Linked DNA regions of Homo sapiens: all the other regions are linked to region 1. The links come from fine-mapping of genetic effects on gene expression. A gene starts in region 1. Each other region holds a variant in brackets. All regions are shown on one strand. Distances are between the middles of the regions. Region 1 holds the start of NCAPD3 (non-SMC condensin II complex subunit D3). Region 2 overlaps NCAPD3 (non-SMC condensin II complex subunit D3). Region 3 holds the start of SNORD153 (small nucleolar RNA, C/D box 153).

What was found. PIP is the estimated chance that this variant, and not a neighbour inherited with it, causes the effect. A credible set is the group of variants that fine-mapping cannot tell apart.
Region 2: its variant is the best candidate, but not a certain one, in a credible set for the expression of NCAPD3 in whole blood (INTERVAL, PIP 0.62).
Region 3: its variant is the best candidate, but not a certain one, in a credible set for the expression of NCAPD3 in monocytes (BLUEPRINT, PIP 0.83).

The regions. Positions count from the first base shown.
Region 1 is chr11:134,217,573-134,227,360 of GRCh38, forward strand. It overlaps NCAPD3 (non-SMC condensin II complex subunit D3), which reads right to left and starts at 6,395. Exons shown (of 35, transcript NM_015261.3): 1 at 6,291-6,395; 2 at 3,000-3,154. The coding sequence starts at 6,354. It overlaps VPS26B (VPS26 retromer complex component B), which reads left to right and starts at 7,099. Exons shown (of 6, transcript NM_052875.5): 1 at 7,099-7,773. The coding sequence starts at 7,551. RefSeq lists enhancers at 6,836-6,885, 7,676-7,735, 7,836-7,985 and a silencer at 7,006-7,475.
Region 2 is chr11:134,191,257-134,202,224 of GRCh38, forward strand. NCAPD3 (non-SMC condensin II complex subunit D3) reads right to left here. Exons shown (of 35, transcript NM_015261.3): 14 at 3,409-3,482; 15 at 2,760-2,894; 16 at 1,433-1,653. Among named protein-coding and RNA genes, the nearest start is that of NCAPD3, 27 kb to the right of the region's middle. RefSeq lists a silencer at 6,834-7,034. The variant C/T (reference allele first, on the strand shown) is at 6,312.
Region 3 is chr11:134,142,436-134,153,085 of GRCh38, forward strand. It overlaps JAM3 (junctional adhesion molecule 3), which reads left to right. Exons shown (of 9, transcript NM_032801.5): 4 at 1,806-1,958; 5 at 2,357-2,559; 6 at 3,511-3,610; 7 at 6,112-6,241; 8 at 6,329-6,383; 9 at 6,711-9,566. The coding sequence ends at 6,746. It overlaps NCAPD3 (non-SMC condensin II complex subunit D3), which reads right to left. Exons shown (of 35, transcript NM_015261.3): 35 at 7,678-10,617. The coding sequence ends at 10,509. SNORD153 (small nucleolar RNA, C/D box 153) reads right to left here and starts at 8,928; the gene lies at 8,853-8,928. The variant T/TC (reference allele first, on the strand shown) is at 5,278.

The sequences.
Region 1 (9,788 bases):
AAATGGCCCAGGTAAAGGAGATAAACCCTAGAAAAGAAACCACAATTGTATTAATTCTATCTTCATTCCATGTCTTCTCCTACTAAACACATGAAGAAGAAATGGGTTATTTTAATAACCTAAACATAGCAGGAACTAAATATGGTTTATCCTTGAGTATCGTAACAAAAAAAGGCCCACAAAATTCAAGTGAGCAGAGCACTCTCCTTTCCTTAACTAAAAAACTTACGGGAGAAATCATCTCCACTGGGCACAATGGCTCATGCCTGTAATCCCAGCACTTTGAGAGGCCAGGGCAGGAGGACTGCTTGAGCCCAGGAGTTTGAGAACAGCCAGGGCAACAAAGCAAGACCTTGTCTCCACAAAAAATAAAAAATTAGCTGGGCGTGGTGGCACACACCTGTAGTCCCAGCTACTCAGGAGGGTGAGGTGGGAGGCTCATGTGAGCCCAATAAGTTGAGGCTGCAGTAAGCTTTGACTGTGCCACTGCATTCCAGCCTGGGTGACAGAGCAAGACCCTGGTCTCAAAAAAAAAAAAGGGGGGGGGGGGAAGAAATCATCTCCTAACTTTACAGTGTCACATCCTCATTCCTAATGCCACCTGCACCTCCACTTCACACACGAGGGTGATCGATCACCCTAAACCATCTGCTCACCAGGGCTCTGCATATGGGGTCACCTTGGCCCCATGTGATCCCATGGCTGCTGTCTAGTCTGGGCGTCAGTGACCCTGCACTCCCTACATGTGACTGCTCCTCTGCAGACCCCGTCCAATCAGCTCTCCATTTCTGTCCTGGCTGCTTCTCACCCTCGGTGATCTCATGCATCACTGTGCTTCAACCCATACCTCAATTTAAAGAACTCTCTTCTCTCTCCTGGTCTCACATTTCTACTACCTGTTAAACTTCCCAAGGATCTCCTGACAGAATCTCAAGTTCAGAAGTCTAAACAGAACTGTTTCTCCATTTGACCTTGCTCTTTTTCCCTTATTCCCCACCTTGGTTAACAATATCATCATCTTCCTAGTTTTGAAACCCTGGGGATCACTGACTTCTTTCTTTTTCTAATTCCCTATGCCCAGTCAGTTTAGCACTTCACACCATGTTTTTAAGATATCTCAAAAGGGCTTCCTAGTTCACAAGGCCCTATTAATTCTAATTCCAAAAATGTCCCTAGTTTTTAGTCTTCCTTTCCAGTTCCCAAAATTGTAACTCCGGATCATGCCATTATTACTCATAACACCTGGATCACCAATACAGTCTCCCAAGGGCTCTCCCTGCACACAATTTTTCCCACTTCAGTCCACCTACTGTCAAGAACGTCTGCTTAAAACAGATCTATTCATGTTACCTATCTATTGCCCACTGTAACCTCTTTCACACAGGCTGCTTGAGGATTAAATGAGTTAATACATGCAGGACGCTTAGAACAAAACCTCATACACACTCTACCAAACATGTTCAAACTCCACTGCTGAACCTCACGTAAAGCTACCCGTGACCTACCCTTACTCTACCTTACCATCCCGTTCCACCACACTTTTTCTGTATGCCTCTTGACACTTCCTGCGTGTTCCCATTGGGTGGCTCCTTCACTAGGACTGCCTTACAACCCAAGCTTCTGCTAGTCATCTGTGAAGATTCGCTGCTGGCCACTTTCTTTCTGGAACTTTCCCAACCCTACCATGCTCCCTTTTTCACACCCTATGCAACAAATCCGCACCTCTCTTGGAGCATTTTTCACAGTGTGGTTCGTAGAATATTTCCAGGCGCCCAAATGCACAGTGGCACTGAACTCTCCACCCCCTGCAACTGCATGTGGCTGCTAGACCTACTTTGGCTAGTGTTCAAATGTCCACTCTTCCTCCCTGAGGTCCCTGGGGAGGACCTCAACCTAGGGAGATTGTATCGTAATCCCCACTCTGTCAACTCAGGTACTTAAGGCAGTGCTTAGTGTTATGCTGAAGGAATGTTTAATTAGATGATTTAATTTTGTGATGTGAAACTTGGAAGTGAATTTTTTTTTGTTCATTTAAATGTTTCAGAGATGTTAATATCCAATTAGCTTTTGTTCTGTTTCCCAACCCTTTGGTTTTTTTTGAAAACTAACAACCTAAATATTAATAATAATTTATATTTCTATGCATTGGATAGAACTCAATATTTACAGGAACTGTTTGGACAAACCTGTTAATTCAACTAGTCATTCCTCAGTTTAATAATATCAGATTTTCTTTTTTTGTGAGACAGAGTCTTGCTCTGTCGCCCAGGCTGGAGTGCAGTGGCGTGATCTCGGCTCACTGTAACCTCCGCCTCCTGGGTTCAAGCAATTATCTGCCCCAGCCTCTCGAGTAGCTGGGATTACAGAAGCCCGCCACCACAACCGGCTAATTTTTGTATTTTTAGTAGAGATGGGGTTTCACCATCTTGGTCAGGCTGGTCTTGAACTCCTGACTTCGTGATCCACCCACCTCGGCCTCCCAAAGTACTGGGATTACAGGCATGAGCCACCATGCCTGGTCGCAGATTTTCTTAAAGTTAAGGTTAAGGCATGTCTGAATTGTTATTTGCATTTTCCTTGGTCTAGTTTTCTTGTTTTTGCCTTTATATTTTTCCTTTTTTTTTTTCCTTCTGAGATGGGGTTTTGCCATGTTGCCCAGGCTAGTCTCAAACTCCTGAGCTCAAGCAACTGGCCAGCCTCAGCCTCTCAAAGTGCTGGGATTACAGACGTAAGACACCACACCCGGCCTTATACTTTTCCTTTAATTTGCTATTGTAAAAAACAGTCGTGTCTTAAAAAAAAAAAATCAGACAAGTACCTTGAAGCTTTTGGAGGAAAGCTCTTAGGATATTCCAATAAATTAACCACATTCTTTATGTTACTCATATTGTACTCCCTGTGAACTGTACACCAAGAAAGCTAAGCTTCAGATTATAATAATGACTTTCATCTTCTACTTCTAACACCAAACTTTGGCTAGTTTGTTTTTATATTTTTACCTCCATAGATCCATGTTCTCCAGTAGCAAAGGGTAAAAGGCTTTCATAGAGTTTTGTGAATGCAGCCAATCCAGTCTCTATGATCTCTGCTTCTATGCTGGGATCCAAAGGCTCAGTCTCTGTGAAATCCAGTTCCCACACTGTGTCAACCCATTCTAGGGGAAAATGCAATGAAATGTGTAAGTACTCTGTAACAAGTAAAAAAACTAGTCACCTTTAGATTCCAGGTGTGTTCAAGAGGAGAAAAGTTTACTAGTCACGATTCACATTTAACTTGTTTTAATAACATAGGTGTAGCATAATAAAAGAAAACCAGAAAAGGTTAAGAGAATCTTAAATCACAACTGACACTGACTATTAAGCTAATCATCTTCTAAAAATATAAAGGAGGAAATACTTTTCAGATACAAGAGTTTTGGGAAAGGACACTTCAAAACATTCAGTGATCAGGCTTTCCCACATGTTCAATCTAGAGAAGAAACAGAGGTTAATCAGATTGCCCACGAGGTTCCTTTGTGAAAATATCATAACCAAGTTAATAAGTGGAAATAAAATATAGAGCACTTTATTGGGCCCTTGGACAATCATGTAGCATTTAAAAAACATATATAATTTCTCCAGGAAGTTTAAAATAGAAGAGGCAACCCAGATTCAGACTCCCAGGAATACTTGGTGACTTTAAAACACACTGATTGAAAGAATGTACATTGAGAGGAGGGGTATTAAGACAGCACGCTGGCTGGATTCCACCAATCTCTCTTAACTCTAAATCTTCCCATTCTTTTCTTTTTCTTTTTTTTTTGGATAAACTTTTTTTTTTAACTTAAAGTTTTTGGGTACATGTGCACAACATGCAGGTTTGTTACATAGGTATACACGTACCATGGTGGTTTGCTGTACCCATCAACCCGTCATCTACATTAGGTATTTCTCCTAATGGTATCCCTCCCCTATCCCTCCATCCCCCCTTCCCATTCTTTTCTAATACACTATATTTCTTCAGTGTTGTCATTGTCACTTTCCCAAACTAAAATTAGGACTAGATGGAAATGTGGACATCTCAAATTATTAATCAGGTGTTCCTTCAAATTAATATTAAAAGTATTTGTTCACCACTGATTTAGAGAAGTTGGGCAAGGTATAAATAAGGAAAAAACAGAGATGGGAGCATTACACTGCACTCGGCAAATGAAAATGAAAGGCCTTACACTCAACTAGTTCCATCCTTAGAATACAATCTGGTCATCATCTTTTGTCACTTGAACTTGACCCTGAAGGAGGGGGTCTCTGTACCCTAAGTGGCTATGCACAGCATTCCTTCCAAAGACATGGAATATGCTGCCTGAAAGAAGATCTGAAAAATACAATTGTTTCTTTCCAAATTTCCAGTAATGTTTTAAAGGTCATTATAGACCACAGCAAAAGTTATCTCACTCCTTCTTTTGGTTTTGCTTATGACAGTTCCCTACTGTAAATACCATCAAATCTAATTTGGATGGCAGTAACTGGCCCTGTTATCTACCATTTGGTCACAGAAGTCTTCAGTGTTGATTGTTGAGTGAGAGTATAGGAGACACTGAGTTAGTCTTTTTCCCTCAGTATCTTTACACTATTCAAATCTCTCACTACCTATTTTCTCAGCTGTCGAATGCAGGTAACTTCTGCTCTGCTACTTCACTTAGGATGGAAGAAGAGGAAGAAATACATCACCTATTCACTCAACAAACACTTTGAGAAAATACTAGGGAAGCCACTTATACTTCTAGGGATATAAAGATGAATACTAGAGGGTTCTTGTCCACAAAGATCTCAACATTTCACACTTAGGATACCAAAAAAAGCAGCCTATGATAGAAGAGAGGCCACTGAATTTTGAGTCAGAACGAGGCAAATATCCTGACTTGATCACTTACACATAATTAGTCTCTCCTTCATCATTGGAAATACAGGATTTTTGTGAAACATAATGTGTATAAAGGCCCTAACAATGTGCTAGCCACATAAAAAACAGTCAATAGATGGTATTTATTATTTTTGCTATGGATGAGTGTTAAAATAATAGATATGTAAAATGTAAAATGCTACAGAGCTTAATAGGGAATAGTACTGGGGGAGGAGGGAGAGGAATAAGATGATTCTTCAATTGGACCTGAATGTAAGAGTTTTGCCAGGCAAATAAATGCAGAAAAGTGCCTCCCAGCAAGCACAGTGTAACAAAGCACACAAAGGGAAAGAAATTAAAGTGTTTCTAAATGAACAAAATTGTTACAGTGTTTGCTTGTGGGTATTAGTATCTGTTCAGCAGTTATTATGTGGCAAGTACAAATTTATCTTTACAAAAACCCCTGTGAGGTAGATATTGTACTCCCCATTTGACAGATCAGAAAACAGGGGTTTAGCAAGGATAAACAACCTGCACGGTAATACATGGATGCTATGGGGTAGAGCCAAGGGAACAATCCAAGTGTGTCCGACTCCAAAGGTTATGCTCTTGGAAAATCAAACTGGAGAGAATGGCAGCTCTTATAAAGCATGCCAAGGATGTGGTCATTTATTTAGGAAACAAAGGGGAAACATTAAAGGTGTACAGGCTTGACACATTCAAAGCTGTGTTTTCAAAAGTCGTTCTGCAAAAGTGTGGGGGATGGGCTGGCACAGTTAACATCAGAAAGCAGCTAAAATACTCCTGCAATTGCTCGAGGCTATGATGAAGGCAGCAGCATCAGGAATGGAGCGGGGCTGCCCTGAGACACCTCAGAGGCAGGACAGTGGTAGTGGGCATGAAAGGGGAAGCAGAAATGCCATGACTCCTGGGTTGGTGGCTTGGATGGTGCCATTAGCAGGCTTTGGGAATCCCATTTTCACTCATGTGACGTTTGATGATGTCTGCATGTGAGACATCCAGTGGAACCTATGAACATGAAGTTCAAGAAATAAGTCTGGCGGAAGAAAGAGATTTGCAATTTAAAACCATCTTAATAGGTAAGAATAGATAGGTGCACGAAGACACGCACAGGAAGAAGGGGAAGGCCGAGAAAACAGATGCACAGGCGCTAGAAGAGACTGGCCAACATTCGCTTATTCTAAGGGTGGCCTGGCCGGCTTGAGCCCCCACGGGAAACCTGGCTAGCCGCAATCCTGGCGTGGCACGGCCCTGGGGACCCCAGGCACCGCCGACAGCCGGGCGCCCCCACCCCGCCCCCACCGGCACCCCGGCCCGGGCTTAGGCATCGTCGGGGACGCATAGGACCCTCGCCCTGGCCCCCGGGCCTCCCGGCTGCATCTGCTCACCGAGTCTAAGATCCAGCGGACACCAGGGCTGCAGGCCGCTACCAAGGCCCCGCAACGCCACCATGATCCCAGGGCACCGGCTCGCCGCCGCCGTGCTCAACTTTCAAAGCTCGCTCCCGCGCGCGCGCCGAGTCGTTCCTGTGGACCAATCACAACGTACAGAATTTCCCACTGGCCAACCACCGCGCCGAGCCGTTTCCATTCGCTCAACCAATCACCGGCGTCGTCCGCCGCACGCTCAGAGAACTGGGCGGGCCGAAAAGTGGAAGCCAAACAAGGCTCCTGCGGGTGTTCCGCTAATTCGTTCGAGAAGGAGCCAGGGCCTGAGTTAAACCCTAACAGCGTTTTTCCCGCCTCGTTTTTCTTCAATGGGGGAAAATCTAAAGGGTATCTGAGATAGGGTACTTCCGGTAGTAACTGTCACCTTTGCCCTCGTCAGGCGACATTTCGCGTGCGTGTCAAAGGGCTGCCTTTCCCGTCAGCACTCGAACAGCGTAATATCCGAATGTGAAAGGCAGCCCAACGTGTATCGAGCTAAAGTAATAAGGGAAAAGTAGCCGAAAGCACTCCGAGAAGACAAGACAACTGCAGTTCTGTAGGGACTGCGCGGCACGCGTGGGCCCAGAGCCTGTCCCAGCGAGGTAGCAGCTGCCATGCCGACCGCTGGAGCGCCGGCCGCGCTCTCCCTGCGCATGCGCAGCGAGCTCTCCTCCGGGCTGCCGGGAGTCCCAGGAGCGTTAGGGGGTGCGCCTGCGCGCCGCTGCTCCAGCGCATCCGGGCTGGAGCTCGCCCGCCCCCTCCCCCGCCCGGAGCCGCCGAAGCGCCTCGGTGCGTTGCACCGCCGGAGGCTGGGCAGCTCGCAGCGCTGCTCGGCGCTGGACCCCACCCGGCAGGCGCAGGCCACCCACACCCGGCTCTGTGCGGCTGCCCCCCGCAGCATTGCACGGCCGACCCTCGCCCGCCCACTGCCACCGGCCGCGGGACTGGCTGGGACTGGCTCGGCCGAGGGCACTGCTCCTCGGTGCATTGCTGCTCGGGCGCCGCAGCCCGCAGCCGCCAGCCTCCCCCGGCCGTGCCCCTCCCCCGTGGAGCCGGCTGTCCGTCGGCGCCCACTGCCCGGCGGCAGCGGCGGAGCCAGGCAGCCCCGCGGCGGCCGAGCGCGCTCGCGCATCGGGCCCTCTGGCCTTCTTTACCTAGGGCAGCCCGCGCCCCGGTGCGAGGGAGCGGTCCTTACCGAGACCCGCCCGGCCCGGCGGTGCGATGAGCTTCTTCGGCTTCGGGCAGAGCGTGGAGGTGGAAATCCTTCTGAACGATGCAGAGAGTAGGAAGCGGGCCGAGCACAAGACGGAGGACGGGAAGAAGGAGAAATATTTCCTCTTCTACGACGGGGAGACGGTCTCCGGGAAGGTGAGCCTTGCCCTCAAGAACCCCAACAAGCGGCTGGAGCACCAGGGCATCAAGATCGAGTTCATCGGGCAGATCGGTGAGTCGACCCCCGGGACCCCCTCCCCCAGCGCCGACAGCCGGCCGGGGAGCAGGGTGATTCAGGGCCCAGCTCCTCCGGCGAGGCCTGTCACAGTCGCTTGTCAACTGCAGTCTGAGGCCTGGGGTTCAGCTACAAGTCCCGCCCGTGGGCGACTCCCCCTGCGTTACTGTCCTCCCTGCCAAAAGTGACAGCGCGCTGCCAGGGAGATGGGGACGGCGAGGGCGGGAGGAAGCGCCCTGCTGTGCCTCGTGGGATGGGCACCTTGCCTATGGGTTCTCCCCATTGTCTCCGGCATGCACTCGGCTTTGCTTCTTGTCCCCAGGATTTCTGGGTGAGGTGCTCTGGCCATAGCCTGCAGGTGGGTTTGTTAGGGGGAGACCGCTCTGCCAATACTGGCTTTCCCATCGCCCGGCCATCTGCAACTGCCAGACGCAAAGTGAGGCTCGTCCACCGAGCCCCACTTCCCAGAGCCCGCACCAACCCGTTTTTCTCTTTAGATGTGGTGTGAGAGAGCTAACCAGTTCTCTCTTACCTCACCTCAGCCCTGAACTACCTATGCTTGTACATGTTTCCAGAAAGAAGACCCATAATCTTCAGTCTAAATCTGACTACCTAGGCTGCGTTTCTTAGACTTCTTTATTAGAATGCAAGTTTTCAGTTACCACATTTTCTGTTTAAAGACAAAGAAATGGTGTTTCTAAAAACCACAATTAAGTGATCAGAGTTTCTCAATGCTTTAAACATGATTATTAATCATTGGAACTAGACAGCGCCAGGCACAGTGGCTGATGCCTACAATCCCAGCACTTTGAGAGGCTGAAGTGGGAGGATTGCTTGAGGCCAGGAGTTGGAGACCAGCCTGGGCAATATAGCAAGACCTGCCTCTACCCCCAAAAATTTTTTTGTAATTAGCTGGTCGTGGTGGTGCTTGCCGGTAGTCCTAGCTCCTCGGGGGGCTAAGATGGGAGGATTGTTTGAACCCAGGAGTTCCAGGCAGCAGTGAGCTGTGATAACACCACAGCACTCCAGCCTGGGTGACAACCAGCAAGACCCTGTCTCAAAAAAATAAACAAATAAACAAATAAGAACTAGACAGTAAAAGGCAGTAATGGTAAAGTGATTTGGGGAGCTCCCAGTCAAGACTGGGTCGTCTCCAATTCTAAGCCTTATTTAGACTCTTGTGTATTATTAAAATGCTTGGGTACTTTTAAAATAAGTTGTTTTTGTCGTTAGGTTAGGAGTAGAATCACAGTAAATACCCTGTGAGCTACACACCTCTGGTAGAGAATCCATACCGATACCACACACTGCATACATAACTCTGTTTTTAGAGACTTCCTTGGGGAATCTTTGTTAAACTCTCTTATCCTGAGAGTTTAGCAAAGAATTTGCCGTCTTTTTTTCACAGAGGCAGGAAACACGGAGACACAGGTAGGAGAAACCCTGGGAAAAGGAGGCCTTGTGGCCTGGCTCTTGGGTTCACTGCTCAGCCTCAAGCATTTTGCCTCTGGTATTTAAGAACATGAAATCAGGTTGAAGACTGGCTGATCTTACAGGAAGCTCTTTGTTGTTATTTTAAAGCCAGAATATGAAAGGTCTTAGTGTACCAGAAAAGGGGCCGAAGAGTGAGTTCCATGCCTTCTGCTTTCCTGCTTCTGGGTTCAATGGTGGGGTAGATGGCAAGGTTCCTCAGTAGCAGCACTGTGATGTCTGGCATCGTTTGGCATGTTGTCATGGGATGTTTAGCAGCATTCCCAGCCTCTACTGACCAGACAACAGTAGCATCCCCCACTTGCGACCACAAAAATGTCTTCAGATATTGCTGTATATCCTCTGGAGGGTAAAATCATCTCTAGCAAAGAACCCCAGGATAAACAGGATGAGTCCAAAGCATATTATGCTACGCATAGTAAATAGTCGAGAAATCCTTGCCTATTGAGCAAGGTATTTTTTAGTAGCAGTTTTAAAGTTATTGCATTGATTCTTTGGCTCCATAATAATAATTAGTGTTG
Region 2 (10,968 bases), 26 kb before region 1:
ATTTTAAGCAACACTGGAAAATAAGAAGAGTTGCCATGAAATCAGAAGTCAAGAGTAATTTCAGAAAATGTGCAGCACGTGAGTTCTGGGCCACTTTTTTTCAAGTATTAGCCAACTTGGGCAGAGGTGGCTATCACCTACAATGATAAACAGAGATTGCATGGTGGTTACACAGGCATACTCTCTTTGTGATATTTACTGACCTTATGGTTTGTGTACTTTTCTAGACATGCTATACTTCAATACAAAAGTTTTTATAAAGAAAAATAAATTTTAAAACCTCCCAACAGCTTCTCAGGAGCTGTAGAAGGCCTCTCCTGCTTTTTTGCAAAGAATGACTACTACCTTTCATTACATTAACATGAATTAATACATAGAGCATGCATAAGGAGGTATCTCTAAGAAAAGTGAAAAAGCAGTAGACTCTATTATTAGCTAAATCTCTCCATTCTAGAAATCTCAGGAAAGCATAGGGTGGGTAGAGGTTGAGTATCACTCATCTGAAATGCTTGGGACCAGAAGTGTTTTGGATTCTGGAATATCTGCATATACTTAATGAGATATCTTGGGGATGGAACCAAAGTCTCATATACACCTTGTATGCACAGCCGGAAGGTGATTTTATTTTTCGCCTGCGGATGCTGAACAGACTGTATGCTGTGAGCCTGCATTCTCACTGTGACCCGTCTCATGCGGTCAGGTGTGAGATTTTCCACTTGTGGCATCATGCTGACATTCAGAAAGTTTCAGCTTCCAGAGCATGTTTGGATTTTAGATTTTTGGATTACGGATGCTCAACCTGTACTGAGAAAACCATGAAGAGATCCTAGAGTACAACGGCTGCTCTTACAAATCAGGAAACTAAGGCTCAGAGAAAGTGATTTTTGCCAAGGCTGCAGAATGGTATTTTTTGATACTAAATCTATTTTCTTTCTACCGCATGATGATTCCTCCATCACAGATCCTAACTCCTAACTACAATATTCACTGTACAGTGTATGTTCAATAAGTGTTATCAAAGGGGAAAAAGCCTGCAGTGTTAGTTAAGTCAATTAATCCAATGAGGTGTTAAAAACAGTTTAACTTGCAGGAGCTAGGAAGTCATCCTTCGTGATAACCAGTATTGGGGAAAGGTGATATTAATATGTATCTCCATCAGTGTTGTCTACTACATATGAAGACACCAAAATCTGAAACTGGAAAGCGTCAGACAGATGCAAAGGAAGTGACCAAACAGGTGTCACAAACATACAGGCGATAAAAATATCTAAGAGATTGGAAGTCAGTCAGGGAAAGAGAGACCAATACTTAATCTTCACATACACTAAGTAATCTGGAAAGCTGATTTTTCGAGGACCAATAGGAGAAATTTATTAATACAAAGTCCTACGGCCTTCTTCTATAGGGAACACAGGTCATACAGTTAACCTACCTCAGTTCCTGGCTTTCGGTGGTGAGGAGAGTAAGAAGCGCCCAGGCGAGGACCTGGCTGTCGTCCCCAGAGTGAAAATGACTGTGATGCCGGATGTTCTGCAGCAGCAGCTGGTCCAGGAACTCCAGGGCCTTCTCCTGCACAGTGCTCTCGCAGTCCATCACCACCGGGACCACCCCCCGCAACCAGGCTTTCTGGATCTGCACGCATCTAGGCTGAGCCTTAGGAGTGAAAGATTATGACATGAGAAGGTCTAAATACAAGTCAGGGAAGTTGTGATCAACATTTTGAGATGTTAAAAATAATCACACCTTCAACTGCAAATAGACCATAGAGTGAAAAAAGAAAAAAATTCAAAAAATATACAAAAGCAAAGCCAGCTTAATGTAAATCACTGCAAACCAAAATTTTAAACTCATACATTAAAGTCACTATTTTACTAGTAGCTACTAGTAAATCAGTACTTTTTTGGTCATTAAAAATCAAGAGCAAATAATAAATATCCCAAAGAGCAATTAGAACAGATGCTGACAGAAAAAGTCAAAATATGCATTGCTTAATGCCTTCTATTATGAAATAAAGAAATAAACATACTTCTAAAATTCTTTGACTAAAATGCTAACTAGTAAACAAAAGTAAATTAAATATAGTACTTGTGAGTCTGCTTTTTTGGCAATATCATCTATCTATGCCCTAATTGACTAAATTTAATCTAGGCCTCTAGCTTAACCAAATCAATTTTAAATTTTATTTTTCTGTGTGAGATTTAAAGTGAAGAAAAGGGCCGGGTGCAGTCACTCATGCCTGTAATCCCAGCACTTTGGGAGGCCAAGGCAGGCGGGTCACCTGAGGTCAGGAGTTCAAGACCAGCCTGGCCAACATAGTGAAACCCTGTCTCTACTAAAAATACAAAAATTAGCCAGGCATGGCAGCACCTGCCTGTAGTCCCAGCTACACAGGAGGCTGAGGCAGGAGAGTTGCTTGAACCTGAGAGGCAGAAGTTGCAGTGAGCTGAGATTGTGCCACTGCACTCTAAGCCTGAGAAACAGAGCAGGACTCTGTCTCAAAAATAATAATAATAACAATAAAGTGAAGAAAGGGCTAACAATTGGCATTCTCTAGCATTAGTTCCTAATTATGTTTAATAGGAAGCACAGTCTATCACACATAATTCAAAAATACCTCCTCCCTTACATTGTACAGTTCTACAGTGGACTTAGTAGAGTTTTTAAAGGTCAACTTAACGTTTAGCAGCAGGTAATTATTGTGTGGAATTACTTTTAATGTAAAATACCATGCATTACATATATAATGTCCTGCCTCTCACCATAAGGAGTTCAGTAAGAGACTGGAGGGCCTGCTTCCGGACAGACACTGCAGGGTCCCGACACTGGTCCTGCAGAATCCACAGGTCTTCCTTCATGCCTGAGACATCACAGTGTTTCAAAATACTCACTAATACCTAGAAGGCATAGACGCAACATGAACTGTTAACTGCATAGCATCAACTCACAAAGATAAACTGTTAACAAAGGAACACTTCCTTTAAGTTTGTGGTTCTTAACATTTTGGGGTCATGGATCCAACCTTCCTCCTCACAACATCCCATTTTTCAGAATCCAATTTGCTAAGGCCTCTCTCAGAGAAAAACAAATTTTATATAAACAAATATTTACAAACTATTTTATGAACCTATTAAAATCCACCCATGGTCCCTAGGTTAAGAATCCCTATTCTAAACAAATTCAGGATATAAATTTGTGGTTCTTAAAAAAATCAGAAACCCTGTAGGAAAGCTTAAAAATAAAAAATCTTCCAGTTCGTCTATGATTCATATACAACAGGATCAGGGTCAACTAACAGTTAGGCGAAAAGCAAATTAAGTAATGAATATGGCCTAAGAGTTTAAAAAATATTCCTTTGCATTTCCAAGTTTTTAGTGCTTAAAAAAAAAAATGTGCAGAGAAAACTCCCACCTGCAGTGCAGACTTCCTAACGTTGGTCTTCTCATCCCTGATCCTCCTTCTCAGCATTGCCATGACACATCTTTCTGTAGAGGGAATACCAAAGGGTCATCACAGCTGGAGAAAAGTCACACAGCAGCTAACATTTCACCACACAATACCCAGAAAATACACTCATCTTAAAGACTCATTAGCTTGTTTTAAATCCTAAGAAATGAGAGTGTGGAAAAAGAAGAAAATGTGAATAATTAGGTATTCACTGTAATGCATATAAACTTTGGAATATTAAAAATTTGGTTTTAAATCTCAGCCCCTACCTCTAAAATTGTGAATGAATTATTTATCTCTTCCATTTTGTTTAGCTACAAATAGGAGTATCTAACCCATAGGATTATTTTAAAGATTTGATGAGGTAATATATAACAGCAGCTTTAAAATGTTTGACTTGAAGACATTTTTTTATAAGAGACAGGGGTCTCATTCTGTCACCCAGGGTGGTGTACAGTGGTACAATCATAGCTCACCGCAATCTCAAATTCCTGGGCTCAAGTAATCCTCTCTCCTCAGCCTCCCAAGTAGCTAGGAATACAGGCATGAGCCACCATGCTAATTTTTTTTTATTTTTCTGTAGAGACAGGACCTTGCTGTGTTGCTCAGGCTGGTCTCGAACTCCTAGCCTCAAGTGATCCTCCCAACTCAGCCTCCCAAAGCAGTGAAATTATAGGAGTGAGCTACCACGCCCAGCCTTGAGGCTTCTTTATATTCTTAAAAATTACTGAGGACCCTAAAGAGATTATATCTTTTAATACTTAGAATCAGAAATTTAAACTGAGAATTGTAAAAATATTTATTAATTCATTTTAAAAGAGCAAGATATGTTACTGTTAGTACTTTTTCATAAAAAATAACTATATTTTCCAAAACAAATAAACTAAAAATAGTGAAAAGGCTGGATGTGGTGGAATGTGCCTATAATCCCAGCTACTGGGGAGACTGAGATCAGAGGATCAACTGAGCCCAGGAGTTCGAGTCCAGCCTGGGCAACACACCAAGACCCGATTTTAAAAAAAAAGAATGGCATTGTTTTAGAGTTTTGCAAACTTTAAAATGTCTGGCTTAATATAAGCCAGCTTATCTCTCATCTGGCTTATATTAAACAGGATTCTCATCTCTGTTTCTACCTGCAATCTGTTGCAATTTGATAAGTCATGGGACCACTGGAAAACTCCAATATACATTCGTGAGGAAATCAGAGTGTGGAAGGCAAATGAACACTGCACTCATTTTTACTTCAAGGACCCCTGAGGGTTCCCAAAACACACTTTGGGAACTGCTTATATATAAGAAGGCAGCTTAAAAAATAAAAGATGGAAAACAATAGAGAAAAATCAATGAAACTAAAAGTAGGTTCCTTGATAAGATCAACAAAACTAATACACCTTTAGCTAGACTGGCGAAGAAAATAAGAAAGAAAATTGAAATTGCTAAAATCAAGAAAGGAGGGACATTACTACTATTAGCCTTACATAAATAAAAAGGATTACAAAGGAATACTATGAACAATTTTATGCCAACAAATTAAGTAGCCTACATAAAAGAAACAAATTTTTAGAACGACAAGTTTTAGAAAGACACAAACTACAGAAACTGACTCAAACAGAAATAGAAAATCTGAATATACCTGTAACGAGTAAAGAAACTAAATTAGTGGCCAGGCGCGGTGGCTCACGCCTGTAATGCCAGCTCTTTGGGAGGCCGAGGTGGGTGGATCACCTGAGGTCAGGAGTTCAAGACCAGCCTGACCAACATGGTGAAACCCTATCTCTACAAAAAATACAAAAAAATTTGCCGGGTGTGGGGGCGGGTGCTTGTAGTCCCAGATACTCAGGAGGCTGAGGCAGGAGATTTGCTTGAGCTGGGAGGCAGAGGTTGCAGTGAGCCAAGACTGTGCCATTGCACTCCAGCCTGGACAACAACAGCGAAACTCCATCTCAAAAAAAAAAAAAAAAAGAAAAGAAAAGAAAGAAAAAGAAACTAAATTAGTAATCAAAAATACTTTACACACACACATACACACACACCCCTTCCTAAGGACCAGACACTTAGTGGAGAATTCTAACAAATGTTAAAGCAAAAATGAACAACAATCCTTCATGAACTCTTTCAAAAAATAGAAAAGAATACACTTTCCAGCTCATCTTAGGTGAGTACTACCCTGATAGCAAAACCAAAACATCTCAAGAAAACAACGGATATAGTTTGAGTATTTGTCCCCACCCAAACCTCATGTTGAACTGTAACACCCAGTGCTGGAGGCGGGGCCTGGTAGGGGTGTTTGGATCACTGTGGCAGATCCCTCGCAGCTTGGTGCTGTCTTCAGGACAGCAATACTGAGTGAGTTCTTGTGAGATCTGGTCATTTAAAAGTGTGTGGCACCTTCCCCCTGACTCTTTCTCCTGCTCCCACCATGTGAAACGCCTGTTCCCTTTTGGCTTTCTGCTATGATTCTAAGCTTCCTAAAGCCTCCCCAGAAACAGATGCCAGTGCTATACTTTCTGTACAGCCTGCAGAACCATGAACCAATTAAATCTCTTTTCTGATAAATTACCCAGTCTCACATCTTTTTTTTTTTTTTTTTTTTTGAGACAGAGTCTCACTCTGCTGCCCAGGATGGAGTGCAGTCGCATGATATTGGCTCACTGCAACCTCTACCTCCCAGGTTCAAGTGATTCTCCTGCCTCAGCCTCCTAAGTAGCTGAGATTACAGGCACCTGCCACCATGCCCAGCTAATTTTTGTATTTTTGGTAGAGATGGGGTTTCACCATGTTGGCCAGACTGGTCTCGAACTCCTGACCTCAAGTAATCCATCCGCCTTGGCCTCCCAAAGTGCTGGGATTACAAGCATGAGCCACCA[C/T]GCCTGGCCACGTATTTCTTTATAGCAATGCAAGAATGGCTTAATACAACAGACCAATATTCCTTATGAATATGACACCAAAATTCTCAACAAAATACCAGCAAACCAAATCCAGCAAGATACAACCATGCTTGGGATTTATCCCAGGAATGAAATGTCAACCTGTGAAAAATCAATCAATGTAAATTACAGCATGGTAACAGAACAAAGAAAACCACACAATCATCTCAAAATAGATGCAGAGAAAGCATTTGCAAATTCCAACACCTTTCCATGATAAAAACTCAGCAAGCTTGAAATGGAAGGAAACTTCCTCATATTGATGAAAGTCATACTAAAAACCTCACAGCTAACGTCGTACTCAGCGGTGAAGACCAAAAGCTTTCCCCCTAAGTAAAGAAAAAAGACAAAGAAGTCTACTCTTTGACTTCTTTTCAACATCATTCCACAGACTGTAAACCAAAAATAAAATTCTAAGGCTCTCCAACCATCTGAATGGACTTCCTCCTCAGCCAGGGCACTCTAAAATTTAACCTGAAGACTGGTTCAGACCATGACGGGATGTGGGGGTCAGACATGCCTCATTATACCCTCCAGCATTAACATCAACACAGTCTTTAAGTCTGATAAGAAACGTTTACAATCTATTCTCTCTGAAGCCTACTATCTGAAGGCTTCCTCTGCAGTAATGAACTTTAGTCTCCACCACCCTTTATCTTAACCCAGACATTCCTTCCTATTGAACCCAGTTCTTTAGACAAACTCAGCCAATTTTCAACAAGAAAAATTTAAAATCTACCTATAAGCTGGAACCCTCCCCACCTTGTCCCTGCCTTTTGGGACCAAACCAATGTATCTATTAAACGTATCTGATTGATGTCTGATGCCTCCCTAAAGTGTATAAAACCAAGCTGCACCCAACCACCTTGGGCACATGTTCTCAGGACCTCCTGAGGGCTGTGTCACGGGCCATGGTCACTCACATTTGGCTCAGAATAAATGTCTTCAAATATTTTACAGAGCTTGACTCTTTCTGTCAACAAATAGGTAAGAAAAAGAAATGAAAGATATCCAGATTGGAGAGGAAGAAGTAGAACTACCTCTATTTACAGATGACTTGTTCTTATATCAAGAAAATCCTAAGGAATCCACAAAACAATCATTAGAGCTCGTAATGAGTTTGGCAAGGTTGCAGGACAGAAGATCAATTATCAAAAATAATTTGTAAAAACTAGCAATGAACAATTCAGAAATGAAATTAAGAGAGCAATTTAATTTGCAATACTATTGAAAAGAATAAAAACACTCAGGACAAAATTTAAAGAGCAACAATGGTTCACTGAAAACTACAAAACATCACTGATACAAATTAAAGACCGAAAGAAATAAAAAGACATCTGGTGTTCATGGATTAGAGGAATTAACAAACGAACATGGCAACACTCCCCAAACTGATGTACAGATCAATCCCTATCAAAATCCAAGATGGCTTTTTTTTTCTTGCAGAAATTGGCAATTAATCTTAAAATTCATATGGAAATACAAGGGACCCAGAATAGCCAAACTAATTTTAAAAAAGAACAAAGGGACAGGAGGAGAACTCATACTTCCTGATTTAAAATTGACTATCACAGGATACTATGTTAACACCAAAATATGACTCTGACATAAAAATTATTTCTGGGAAGACAGTTAAAGCAGACAATTAACAAGCAGCAGCAAACAGAGAAAAAGCTCTGTCTATCCTTTCCCTTTTCTTTATTTATATGGGCAGTATATAAATTCTCCTTTACACACGGGGTCTCTGGACCCTTATCAGCCCAGAGCAATTCACAAAACTCACTCCATTGTTTTCCTCCCACATACAGGCAGTCCCTGACTTAGGATTTTCTGATTTTGCAATAATGTGACAGCAATGCACATTCAAACCATACTTTGAGTTTTGAATTCTGCTCACTTCCTAGCTAGTGACATGCAGAATGATACACTCTCACGATGCTGGGCAGCAAGAGTAGCTCCCCGTCAGCCACCCCATCAAAAGGGGACAACAGAGAGTCTCCAGTGTACTGTACTGCCAGCATTTTTTGGATATGGTGTTTTGTGTTACGTAAGTGGAGTTCTAAGCCCTCAGTTACTTTGCATTGAGATCTCTCCCGCATAACACGCACTAGACATGTTAATAAACTTGTTTGTCTTGTTATGGGGATCCATCCCGAGGAAGAACTCATGAGGACTGAAGAAAAAATTATTTCCCCTCTCCTACGCTAGAACGCAACGGCAATCAACACAATGTGGTACATAAAGACAGATATATAGATTAATGAAATAAAATTCCATTAATATAGAATATAGAGCACACAAATAAGCTCATGAGCTTATACAAGTCAGTCAAGTGATTTTTTTACAAGGGTGCCAAGACACTCACAGGTGAAGGAACAGGCTGAAAGAAACAGTGCTATGTCAACTGGATAGTCACATGCAAAGGAGTGAAGGTGGACCCCCTATATCACACCATATTCAAAAATTAACTGAAAATTGATCAAAGACCTAAATGTGAGAGCTAAAACTATAAAACCCTTAGAAGAAAACACAGGAGTAAATCTTTGTGACTTTGGATTACACAACGATTTCTTAGCTATGTGATACCAAAAGCATGAGTAAAAAAAGAAAAAGATAAATTGGACTTCATCAAAATTAAAATGTTTTGTGCCTCATAGAATACCATTTGAAAAGACAACCCACAGACTGGGACAAGTCTTTAAAAATCATATATCTGATAAGGTATATATATAAAAATAACTCTTTCAACTCAAAAATAAAAGATAACCCAATTAAAAAATGGGCAAAGAGCTTGAATAGACATTTCTCCAAAGAAAACGTATGTATATGGCCAATAAGCCTATGAAAATTTACTCAACATCATTAGCCATTAGGGAAATGTAAATCAAAACCACAAGCAGATACCACCTCATACCCACAAAGATGGCTAAAATAAAAAAGACAGACATGGCAAGTGTTGGTAGGAATGCAGAGAAATAGGATTATCATACGTTGCTAGCAGGATTGTAAAATGGTGTGGCCACTTTGAAAAAGTGTGGTGGTTCCTCAAAATGTTGAATATAGAGTTACCATACGACCCAGCAGTTCTCCTCCTAGGTATACACTCAGAGGGAATGAAACCACACATCTATACAAAAACTCATACAAGAATACTTACAGCAGCATTAGTCACAATAGCCAAAAAGTGAAAACAACCCAAATGTTCATCAACTGATGAATGCATAAACAAAATGTGGTGTATCCTTATAACTGACTATTACTCAGCACAAAAAGGAATGAAGTACTGATAGATGCTATAACATGAATGAGCCTTGAAAACACGCTATAGGTGAAAGAAGTCAGACACAAAAGACAACACAGTACATGACTGCATTTATGCGGAATGTCCAGAATAGGCAATTTTTTTTTTTTTTTTTTGGACAGAGTCTCGCTCTGTCAACAGGCTGGAGTGCGGTGGCGCAATCTCGGCTCACTGCAACCTCCACCTCCTGGGTTCAAGCGATTCTCCTGCCTCTGCCTCCTCATAGCTGGGACTACAGGTGTGTGCCACCACGCCCAGCTAATTTTTTGTATTTTAGTAGAGACGGGGTTTCACCATGTTGGCCAGGATGGTCTCGATCTCCTGACCTCGTGATCCTCCTCCCGTCTCGGCCTCCCAATGTGCCAGGATTACCGGTGTGAGCCACCACGCCTGGCCCAGAATAGGCAATTTTATAAGGAAAGAAAATTACTGGTTGCCAGTGTTAGGAGGAAAGGGGCATGGGGAGTGACTGCTAATGGCTATGGGGTTTATTTTTCAGCTGATGGAATGTTCTGGAATTAGTCTGTACAATCTTGTGACTATACTAAAACAACTACATTATACACTTTCCATGGTGAACTTTATGGTGTGTGAACTCTGCCTTAATAAGAAAAAGCAAAGAGAGCAAAGTGCATCTAAGTGACTATACAAAATTTTTAATGTACAATTAATGCCAACAATATATGTCCTTTCAGCTTATGAACAATGCACTGGAAACATGGGCTCTTTGCGTCCCCGAACTTTCATAATTTTTAAGCATCATTAAATCACCTCAACTTGATATTGCTTGAAAAAGTCTGTGCCACCGTAAATCCGTAACCTGTTTAGACGAAGTCTGGAGCCAACACAAACATTCAGCATTTTTCCAGAGTACATTTTCCTACCACATTTAGAAAACCTGTTTATTATAAATGTAGTTATCGCTCTGAATTGGAGTAATACATGCTAATATCTAGCCTCCTGAACCCAATTTCACGCTGACCTTCTAGGCTGAATAATAAAAGCAGTAATGTAATCATCCTCAGGGCGCTTTCTGTGCATCTCGGCACCTATCTCAGTGTTCCGCATACATGTGTGCACAATTGTATATATGAGAACACTTGTGTGCACAAGCACCTGTCTCTCCACTGATCCTTAAGAGATGGAGCTCTGTCTCACAGACTTGTGCATCTCCAATGCCTGGAACGCATCGGGAAGGACCAGATCAAGGTTTATTGAATAAATTAATAAACCCAATTATGTAATTAATCCTCTACGTACATGCTCTTTCTCTCTCTTATCTGTGTCTCTCTCTCT
Region 3 (10,650 bases), 75 kb before region 1:
TTTTAGTGTGCTGTTTTTAGTGTATTATGGCAAGCCCTTCATGTCCTTGTCAGCAGTTGTCAGGTTTAGCGATGAGTAGTTGCTACTCTTTTGTGTCATGTTTTCCTAACTCCTTCCCCTATTTGTTGTTTTCCAGGTTCTTCCTGCTTCTTTGAAAGTGTTATTATGTCTTATGTTTAAAATGTTTTTTTATGGAGCTGTAATTCGTACCGCATCCTTTTAAAGTGTGCAGTTCAGGGGTTTTTAATATACTCACAGTTGTGCAACCATCACCACTATCAAATTCCAGAACATTTTCATCATCCCACAGAGAAAGCCCGTACCCAGCAGTAGTCAGTCCTCCTCCCGCATCCCTGGCAGCTCTGATTCCACTTTCTGTCTCTGTGGATTTGCCTGTTCTGGACACTGGATAGAAACTGTGGTCTTCCATGGCTGACGTCTTTCACTCAGCATCCTGTTTTCAAGGTTCATCTGTGTTGTAGCCTGTGTCCGTACTTCATTTCTTTTCACGGCTGAATAATGTTCCATTGTAGATATACCACATTATTTTACCCATTCTATTGATGGACATTTGGGTTGTTTCCACTTTTTGGCTATTATCAGTAATGCTGCTATCAGTATTTGTTTACAGGTTTTTGTGTGAACCTAAGTTTTCATTTCTCTGGGATAAATGACCAAGAGTACAACTGCTGAGTCTTACAGTAGTTGCATGTTTAGTTGTTTAAAAAACCGACAGAGTGTTTTTCAAAGCTGCTTTACGATTTTACACTCCTACCAGCAGTGTATTTTCCCACATCCTTACCAACACTTGTTATTGTCTGACTTGTTAAGTTCTAGCCATCTTAGTGGGTTGGAAGCGGCGTCTTGTGGATTTGATTTGCATTTCCTGGTGACTAATGATGTTGAGGGTCTTATTTGTGTATTTTCTTTGGAGAAATGTCTGTTCAAATTTTATGTCCATTTAAAAATATTTTTTTTTCTAGAAACAGGATCTCACTGTGTTGCACAGGCTGGACATGAATTCCCAGGCTCAAATAATCCTCCCACCTCAGCCTTCTGAGTAGCTGAGACTATATGTGTGCACCACTGCACCCACCCTTATGTCCAGTTTTTAAATTAGGTTGTCTATTTCTTACTGAAGTGTGAATTCTTTATTCTGGATGCTAGGTTGGATGTACGATTTGCAGGTATTTCTCCCATTGTGTGGATTGTTTTCACCTGCCTTTGTCCTTTGAATTTTGATGAAGTCCGGTGTAACTGTTTTTAGTGTGTGCTTGTGCTTTTGGTGTCATATCTAAGAAACCATTGCCCAATCCAAGGTCATGAGGGATTTATGCTTATGCATTTTTCTAAGAGTTTTATAGTTTTAACTCCTATGTTAGGTCTTTGTTGTATATGGAGTGAGAGAGAGGTTCAACTTCATGTGTTTGCAAGTGGATATCAAGTTATCTCAGCATCATTTATGAAACATTGGTTGTTTTTCTAGTGGTGTTTTTTTCTATTCATGGGCGGTCCTTCCTGGAAATGAGGAGGAGGAGGTGAAGTTCCTGGTTTTAATGACGGAGACACATGGTAATGAGTGTGTCTTGCACACCAGGAACTATTTTTGGTGTTTAGGTTACAGATAGGAATAGGTCATGGTTCCTGTCCTCAAGAGAGTTCACTTCTGTACTCGGGAATAGAAATAAATATTGATCTGCAGGCTTCCTTGCTGTGGCATCTAGTGCTAGCCCCAGAAACCACCCTCTTCAAGTGGCAAAGATTTCTTTAAAGAAGTTTTTTAGTGCCTCGTGTCTTTTCTGTAGGAGACTTGGCGGGTCGTGCAGAAATACTGGGGAAGACATCCCTGAAGATCTGGAATGTGACACGGAGAGACTCAGCCCTTTATCGCTGTGAGGTCGTTGCTCGAAATGACCGCAAGGAAATTGATGAGATTGTGATCGAGTTAACTGTGCAAGGTAGGAGCTCATGCGAAGGTGAGACATTGCCACCATAGGATGCAAGAGATCAGTTAGTGTCTTGGTTTCTTTCCTTCTAGAACTGTATCCCTGAGGGCTTCACATGGCTTAGGGAGGGGAGAACTGTTGAGAGCTGAGACTGCCTGAGTTGGGGTAGAAGGTGAGAAGGGAAGTGAAGTTCCTGTCACTTCCTTCCACCAGCTAGAGGAGGCGCTTTAACATATGGGAGGGCAGGATGCAGCGGTGGCTTGTCAGTCTGCAGTTGTGATCCTGGGAACAGCAGTGGCGTGGGAACCCCTCGACTGGCTGTCTTGTCTTTGGAGCTGATTTCTTCTGGGCTTTAATAAGAATAGAGCCCTGTCACTGAGATCTTAAACACCACCCCTTTTTCCCCACAGTGAAGCCAGTGACCCCTGTCTGTAGAGTGCCGAAGGCTGTACCAGTAGGCAAGATGGCAACACTGCACTGCCAGGAGAGTGAGGGCCACCCCCGGCCTCACTACAGCTGGTATCGCAATGATGTACCACTGCCCACGGATTCCAGAGCCAATCCCAGATTTCGCAATTCTTCTTTCCACTTAAACTCTGAAACAGGCACTTTGGTAAGATCTCTTCTAAGAGGTGAGGATGGAGATGTCTTTGTTGGGGCAAGAGATGCTTATTGTGAAAAGAAGATTAGGAGAGATACTGAAACTTCTTGATAAGACAGGAGTCAAAAATCTAGAATGTTAGGGATTCTACAGGAAAAATGACCCTTCTTCCTTTTATAAACAAGTACATTCTTAGGGGGTAAAATAAGGAAGAGAAAGAAACCATAGATTGAGACCGAAGAGGGATATTAAGCAAATGTTACTAGGGCCCTGATCGGATAATCAACTGTAAAAGTCATTAGACAATCGGGGAAATTGGATTACTAGGTGGTATTTGATGATCTATTAAGCAACTGTTCATTGCTTTAGGCATGATGAAGGTATTGTGGTTACGATTTTTTACAGTCTTGTAGAGATACTGAAGTATTTATGGATAAAAGGTGTTTGGAATTTGTTTCAAAATAACCCAGTGGTGGTGGTGGGAGGTGGGGGAGGAGAGGAAACAGATTGGTCATGCACTAGAGGACAAAGTGACCTGGCCAGCAAACCACACCAGGCTTTTACTGCATGTGGTTCTCTCCTGGGAGGTACCTTCTGATCTGTGGACCATCCAGTTCCACGTAGTCATCAGACAGATTTTAACAGGGTCCTCTGTGTTCATTTTGCCAAAATGTTGCCCCAGGAGCAGTCATCATTGAAGAGCCCTTTTACCAGAATAAAAGCAAGGTTCCACCTCCCATTTCGGATGTTGCCAGGCTTTGGTGTCTCCAGTCCCAAGGGGATTGGTTGTTGGGGAGCTGTCAGGCAGGTATCAGGGAGTGGGTCAGGGAGGAACATGCACAGTGCTGGGGAAGCTGAAAGCAAGCGAGCAGGTGTCGACCTAGTTCTGGACCCAGCTGGCTGTGCTCTCAGAAATCGGCCCCATGATGGGTCCGATTATTTACTTGTCATTCCCTGAAACAGGTGTTCACTGCTGTTCACAAGGACGACTCTGGGCAGTACTACTGCATTGCTTCCAATGACGCAGGCTCAGCCAGGTGTGAGGAGCAGGAGATGGAAGTCTGTGAGTTTCTTTTTTGAAGAGGTTTCATCGCAAGACTGGGAAGTGAATAGAACATTTTAATTTAATATTATACCATCAGCTTAGAGAACTCTTCCGCCATGGGTTAGCTTTCTTCTGGAGCTGCCTAGGTCCACCAGAACCCACTGCACAGTGAAGGGAAGGCTGAGAAAACCGAGTCCAGATAAGCAGGTCCTCAAAACAAAACCTTCTGGGATCTGCTGGTGTTGGGAACGTGGCCAGCCTTGCAACTTTCACTGCAAGTTTAGTAAACTCCATTCTTTGGTAATTGATAGAATTATCAAAATGTAAGGTGGTGTCAGGTCTCCAGAAATTTATCCAGTTATAACCCTCTTGTAGAAAACTGACAGTTTTAGCCCGAGTAATTTTACCTGCAGACAAAGCTTAGCCCCTAGAGTAATGTTATCTCAGGGCTCTGGTTCCCCTAATGGAGGGGCGTTGAGAGGAGGGTGGGGGCAGAGAGGATGTGTCCAAATCACTTGGGGAGCTTTTTTTTTTCTTAAAAAACAAAAAACAAAAAACACCACAGGGTCTTGCTTTGTTGCCCAGGCTGGAGTGCAGTGAGTGCAGTCACAGGTCACTGCATCCTCAAACCCAGCCTTCAAGCCATTCTCCCACCTCAGTCTCCTGAGTAGCTGGAACAACAGGCACACACCACCATGCTCAGCTAATTTTATTTTTTGTAGATACGGGGTCTCACTGTGTTGCCCAGGCTGGTCTCAAACTCCTGGCCTCAAGCAATCCTCCTGCCTCGGCCTCCCCCAGGTGCTGGGATTAACAGGCATGAGCCACTGTGCCCAGCCAGGAGCATTTTTTGAATCCTTCCCTCCTCCCTATTTGGAGCTCTCCTCAGAGCAGCATTTTCCAAAACTGCCTGGTGATACCCATTTGGGACCACTGTTTCACATACAGATTCGAGCCCACCTCAGACATATGCTAGAAATGTCTGTGTGTGAGACAAGCGTTCCGAAGGATTCTTCTCATGTGTCACGTTTGAGAAACTCTGCTCTAGGGTTGTTTTCTCCTGCAGTTTTGCCCCAGACCTACTTTAGCCTATTGACTTTTTAGTGATGAAACTTGGGAATTGACATTTTAACATCAAAATTGCATGCCAGGCGTGGTGGCTCACACTATAATCCTAGCACTCTGGGAGGCTGAGGCGGGTGGATCACCTGAGGTCAGGAGTTCAAGACCAGCCTGGCCAACATGCCAAAACTCTGTGTCTACTAAAAATACAAAAATTAGCCTGGTGTGGTGGCAGGCGCCTGTAGTCCCAGTAACTTGGGAGGCTGAGGCAGAAGGATCCCTTGAACCCGGGAGGCGGAGCTTGCAGTGAGCCGAGATTGCACCACAGAACTCCAGCCTGGGTGACGGTGACGGAGCAAGACTCTGTCTCAAAAAAAAAAAAAAAAAAACGATTGCAAGTTTACTTTTTGTTTTTGAGATGGAGTCTCGCTCTGTCACCCAGGCTGGAGTGCAGTGGCACAATCTCGGCTCACTGCAAGCTCCGCCTCCCGGGTTCACACCTTTCTCCTGCCTCAGCCTCCTGAGTAGCTGGGACTACAGGCACCTGCCAACACGCTCAGCCAATTTTTTGTGTTTCTAGTAGAGACGGGGTTTCACCACCTTAGCCAGGATGGTCTCGAATC[T/TC]CTGACCTCGTGATCTGCCCACCTCGGCCTCCCAAAGTGCTGGGATTACAGGCGTGAGCCACCGCGCCCGGCCTGCAAGTTGATTTTTAAGTGTACATTCATCTTTGAGAACCAATACACTAGGATAAAGGAGATTTTTTTAAAACTTCCAAGTTACTTGGCTCTTGTTGATAAATTCCCTGCATAGTTTTCCATGTGTCGCTTGCTTGAAGGAACGGCTGCCAGAGCCCCATATGAAAGTGACCCAGTGCCTTTGCCCAGTGTATAGACATGAGAAAAGGGTTCCAGGGGGTTTCCTCTCAGAGGGCTTATAGATCGGAGGTCAGGCAGCCGGCAGAGACAAAGCTCTAGTTCTTACCTAGGATTCTTTACTTGTTTGTTTTTTGAGACAGATTCTTTAAGGCTTGAAGCTACCTTTCTTCCCCGCAGCAATCTGCAACAAAGGGAGGCCCTGGAAATTAGGGATTCTTTTCTTCTTGGGATCCTGGCTCCTAATCTTGTCCTCATAACCATTTCCTCCATAAGTAATCTCAGGCATTCAGCCAGAGGATTTTTAAGCCTACAGTGCCAAGCCCACTTTAATACACTTTTCAGTGCGACTGCATTTCAACTGTAGAAGTCTCAGTACTTTTCACGTGTGAAGTTAGGAGTTATGGTGTCCTATATGTTCTAGGCTAGAAGGATTGTAAGTGTTCTCTCTTCTAGCTGGGGTAGGCCTGAGGGGGCAGGGGGCAAGTGGGTTTGGGGTGAAGGAAGGAGGCACAGCAGGGCCAGGGCCTTTTTAAATAACAGATAGTGTGTATCATGGCTTCCACCAAACCTCCTTTTCTTCAGATGACCTGAACATTGGCGGAATTATTGGGGGGGTTCTGGTTGTCCTTGCTGTACTGGCCCTGATCACGTTGGGCATCTGCTGTGCATACAGACGTGGCTACTTCATCAACAATAAACAGGATGGAGAAAGGTGAGCCTGCCTTATGTGAAAAAAGGGAAGTTCAAGCTGGCAATAATATAACAACCCTGTTGCTAAACTGCTCTCTTCTCCTCATAGTTACAAGAACCCAGGGAAACCAGATGGAGTTAACTACATCCGCACTGACGAGGAGGTAATCATTTAGTAAACCTGGAAACCTAGGTGTACCCAGCAGGGAAAACAACATTCCCCCTTGGAAACCACACGGGTCTCCTGGGAAGATTTCTGAGTGATTGTGCAGCTCCTGAGCTCCTCAGCCCCTTCACAGTAACACACACACACACACACACACACACACACACACACACACTAATGGGATTTGTGCTTTGCAAGCGCTAGTGATGGTACTTTTTAAGAATGATTATTCCATCTGTATTTAGCCCATGTTAGACTTACTCCGTGTTTTTCCCTGCTTGCCACCAGGCCCCTTGATGGCTCTAACTGTGTGTTGGCTTTGCAGGGCGACTTCAGACACAAGTCATCGTTTGTGATCTGAGACCCGCGGTGTGGCTGAGAGCGCACAGAGCGCACGTGCACATACCTCTGCTAGAAACTCCTGTCAAGGCAGCGAGAGCTGATGCACTCGGACAGAGCTAGACACTCATTCAGAAGCTTTTCGTTTTGGCCAAAGTTGACCACTACTCTTCTTACTCTAACAAGCCACATGAATAGAAGAATTTTCCTCAAGATGGACCCGGTAAATATAACCACAAGGAAGCGAAACTGGGTGCGTTCACTGAGTTGGGTTCCTAATCTGTTTCTGGCCTGATTCCCGCATGAGTATTAGGGTGATCTTAAAGAGTTTGCTCACGTAAACGCCCGTGCTGGGCCCTGTGAAGCCAGCATGTTCACCACTGGTCGTTCAGCAGCCACGACAGCACCATGTGAGATGGCGAGGTGGCTGGACAGCACCAGCAGCGCATCCCGGCGGGAACCCAGAAAAGGCTTCTTACACAGCAGCCTTACTTCATCGGCCCACAGACACCACCGCAGTTTCTTCTTAAAGGCTCTGCTGATCGGTGTTGCAGTGTCCATTGTGGAGAAGCTTTTTGGATCAGCATTTTGTAAAAACAACCAAAATCAGGAAGGTAAATTGGTTGCTGGAAGAGGGATCTTGCCTGAGGAACCCTGCTTGTCCAACAGGGTGTCAGGATTTAAGGAAAACCTTCGTCTTAGGCTAAGTCTGAAATGGTACTGAAATATGCTTTTCTATGGGTCTTGTTTATTTTATAAAATTTTACATCTAAATTTTTGCTAAGGATGTATTTTGATTATTGAAAAGAAAATTTCTATTTAAACTGTAAATATATTGTCATACAATGTTAAATAACCTATTTTTTTAAAAAAGTTCAACTTAAGGTAGAAGTTCCAAGCTACTAGTGTTAAATTGGAAAATATCAATAATTAAGAGTATTTTACCCAAGGAATCCTCTCATGGAAGTTTACTGTGATGTTCCTTTTCTCACACAAGTTTTAGCCTTTTTCACAAGGGAACTCATACTGTCTACACATCAGACCATAGTTGCTTAGGAAACCTTTAAAAATTCCAGTTAAGCAATGTTGAAATCAGTTTGCATCTCTTCAAAAGAAACCTCTCAGGTTAGCTTTGAACTGCCTCTTCCTGAGATGACTAGGACAGTCTGTACCCAGAGGCCACCCAGAAGCCCTCAGATGTACATACACAGATGCCAGTCAGCTCCTGGGGTTGCGCCAGGCGCCCCCGCTCTAGCTCACTGTTGCCTCGCTGTCTGCCAGGAGGCCCTGCCATCCTTGGGCCCTGGCAGTGGCTGTGTCCCAGTGAGCTTTACTCACGTGGCCCTTGCTTCATCCAGCACAGCTCTCAGGTGGGCACTGCAGGGACACTGGTGTCTTCCATGTAGCGTCCCAGCTTTGGGCTCCTGTAACAGACCTCTTTTTGGTTATGGATGGCTCACAAAATAGGGCCCCCAATGCTATTTTTTTTTTTTAAGTTTGTTTAATTATTTGTTAAGATTGTCTAAGGCCAAAGGCAATTGCGAAATCAAGTCTGTCAAGTACAATAACATTTTTAAAAGAAAATGGATCCCACTGTTCCTCTTTGCCACAGAGAAAGCACCCAGACGCCACAGGCTCTGTCGCATTTCAAAACAAACCATGATGGAGTGGCGGCCAGTCCAGCCTTTTAAAGAACGTCAGGTGGAGCAGCCAGGTGAAAGGCCTGGCGGGGAGGAAAGTGAAACGCCTGAATCAAAAGCAGTTTTCTAATTTTGACTTTAAATTTTTCATCCGCCGGAGACACTGCTCCCATTTGTGGGGGGACATTAGCAACATCACTCAGAAGCCTGTGTTCTTCAAGAGCAGGTGTTCTCAGCCTCACATGCCCTGCCGTGCTGGACTCAGGACTGAAGTGCTGTAAAGCAAGGAGCTGCTGAGAAGGAGCACTCCACTGTGTGCCTGGAGAATGGCTCTCACTACTCACCTTGTCTTTCAGCTTCCAGTGTCTTGGGTTTTTTATACTTTGACAGCTTTTTTTTAATTGCATACATGAGACTGTGTTGACTTTTTTTAGTTATGTGAAACACTTTGCCGCAGGCCGCCTGGCAGAGGCAGGAAATGCTCCAGCAGTGGCTCAGTGCTCCCTGGTGTCTGCTGCATGGCATCCTGGATGCTTAGCATGCAAGTTCCCTCCATCATTGCCACCTTGGTAGAGAGGGATGGCTCCCCACCCTCAGCGTTGGGGATTCACGCTCCAGCCTCCTTCTTGGTTGTCATAGTGATAGGGTAGCCTTATTGCCCCCTCTTCTTATACCCTAAAACCTTCTACACTAGTGCCATGGGAACCAGGTCTGAAAAAGTAGAGAGAAGTGAAAGTAGAGTCTGGGAAGTAGCTGCCTATAACTGAGACTAGACGGAAAAGGAATACTCGTGTATTTTAAGATATGAATGTGACTCAAGACTCGAGGCCGATACGAGGCTGTGATTCTGCCTTTGGATGGATGTTGCTGTACACAGATGCTACAGACTTGTACTAACACACCGTAATTTGGCATTTGTTTAACCTCATTTATAAAAGCTTCAAAAAAACCCAAACATTGCTTCATTCTTTGTTATTTGCTCTTACGTTGGGTTTGTCTCTTCTTCCTAGCATTTCAGTGGTTAGGCATGCACACTAAAAATGCTATCAATCACCCATCCACCAGGGAAGTCAGTGCTGGGCAGGAGGTCAGCCTGTGTGCTCAAGAGCAGTGCTGCGCCTCTCCGCCACCGAGCCCACCTGTGTTGCGGTTCCCACTTGGGATGGCAGTGGGCAGATCTCAGTGGCATCCCATCCCCCAAACCAACCAACGCACATCATCACTTTGTACTTTTGCTTTTGTAATACTGGGATTAAAAAACAAACCAACTGCATTTCTTTCTGGATATTGTTGAACAAAAATAGCATTCAGTTTACCCACTAGTGCTAACAGAAGAGACTCAAGCTGTTCCCCCATCATGGGAGCAGCCCTTAACAGAGGGCTGCACAAATCGGCAGTGCTGCTCTGGGGAAGGCTGCAAAGCCATTTTTTCCCAAGAAGGGATGCTGTTCATGTCTGTTAGGGAAAGCACACCGCCTCTGCCTGGGCACAGATGAACTGCCCTTCAAGACAATCATCTTTTTTCTAATAGGGAAGATTTGGTTTCATTCCTCTAACAAACAAACATGCTTTATGTAAAATTAAAATGATTACCAATAAGAGCTCTGTTCTAAAAACAGAAAAATCCTATTGACTACTGGAAGGCTGTATTTATGCTAAACCTTTATTACTTTTAGAAAGCTGTACACTTTTTTAAAAAATTTGCACTTATAAATAATAGAAAAAATATTAGAATCAAAATTTCGTCATTACAGATGGGAAAATATGTACTATAAGGAATTCAAGTTAACAGAGGCTTGATTTATATAAAAGAAAGCTGCAGTTTTAAAGTTGTGTTCCTTAAAGACCAGATTATAGCTTATCTGAATGGGCTTGACACTTTCAAATGGAATAAAGTTACAATATTAAACAGATTAGGGTAAGAAAATCTAAATCTGGCACATCTCTATTATTTGACAGTGTTTAACCAAATACATCATACAGAATAGAAGGTGAGTGCCAGGCCCCTGAGGAGGAGCTCTCGTGTTCCACAGCAAAGCGCTGCCCAAGGACTGCGGGAAGTGATCCAGCTGCCTTCACACGGAGGACACGAGACTGCTTCCTCAAGGGCTCCTGCCTGCCTGGACACTGGTGGGAGGCGCTGTTTAGTTGGCTGTTTTCAGAGGGGTCTTTCGGAGGGACCTCCTGCTGCAGGCTGGAGTGTCTTTATTCCTGGCGGGAGACCGCACATTCCACTGCTGAGGCTGTGGGGGCCTAGGGAAAGGACATGTGCAGTCATTCTGGAAC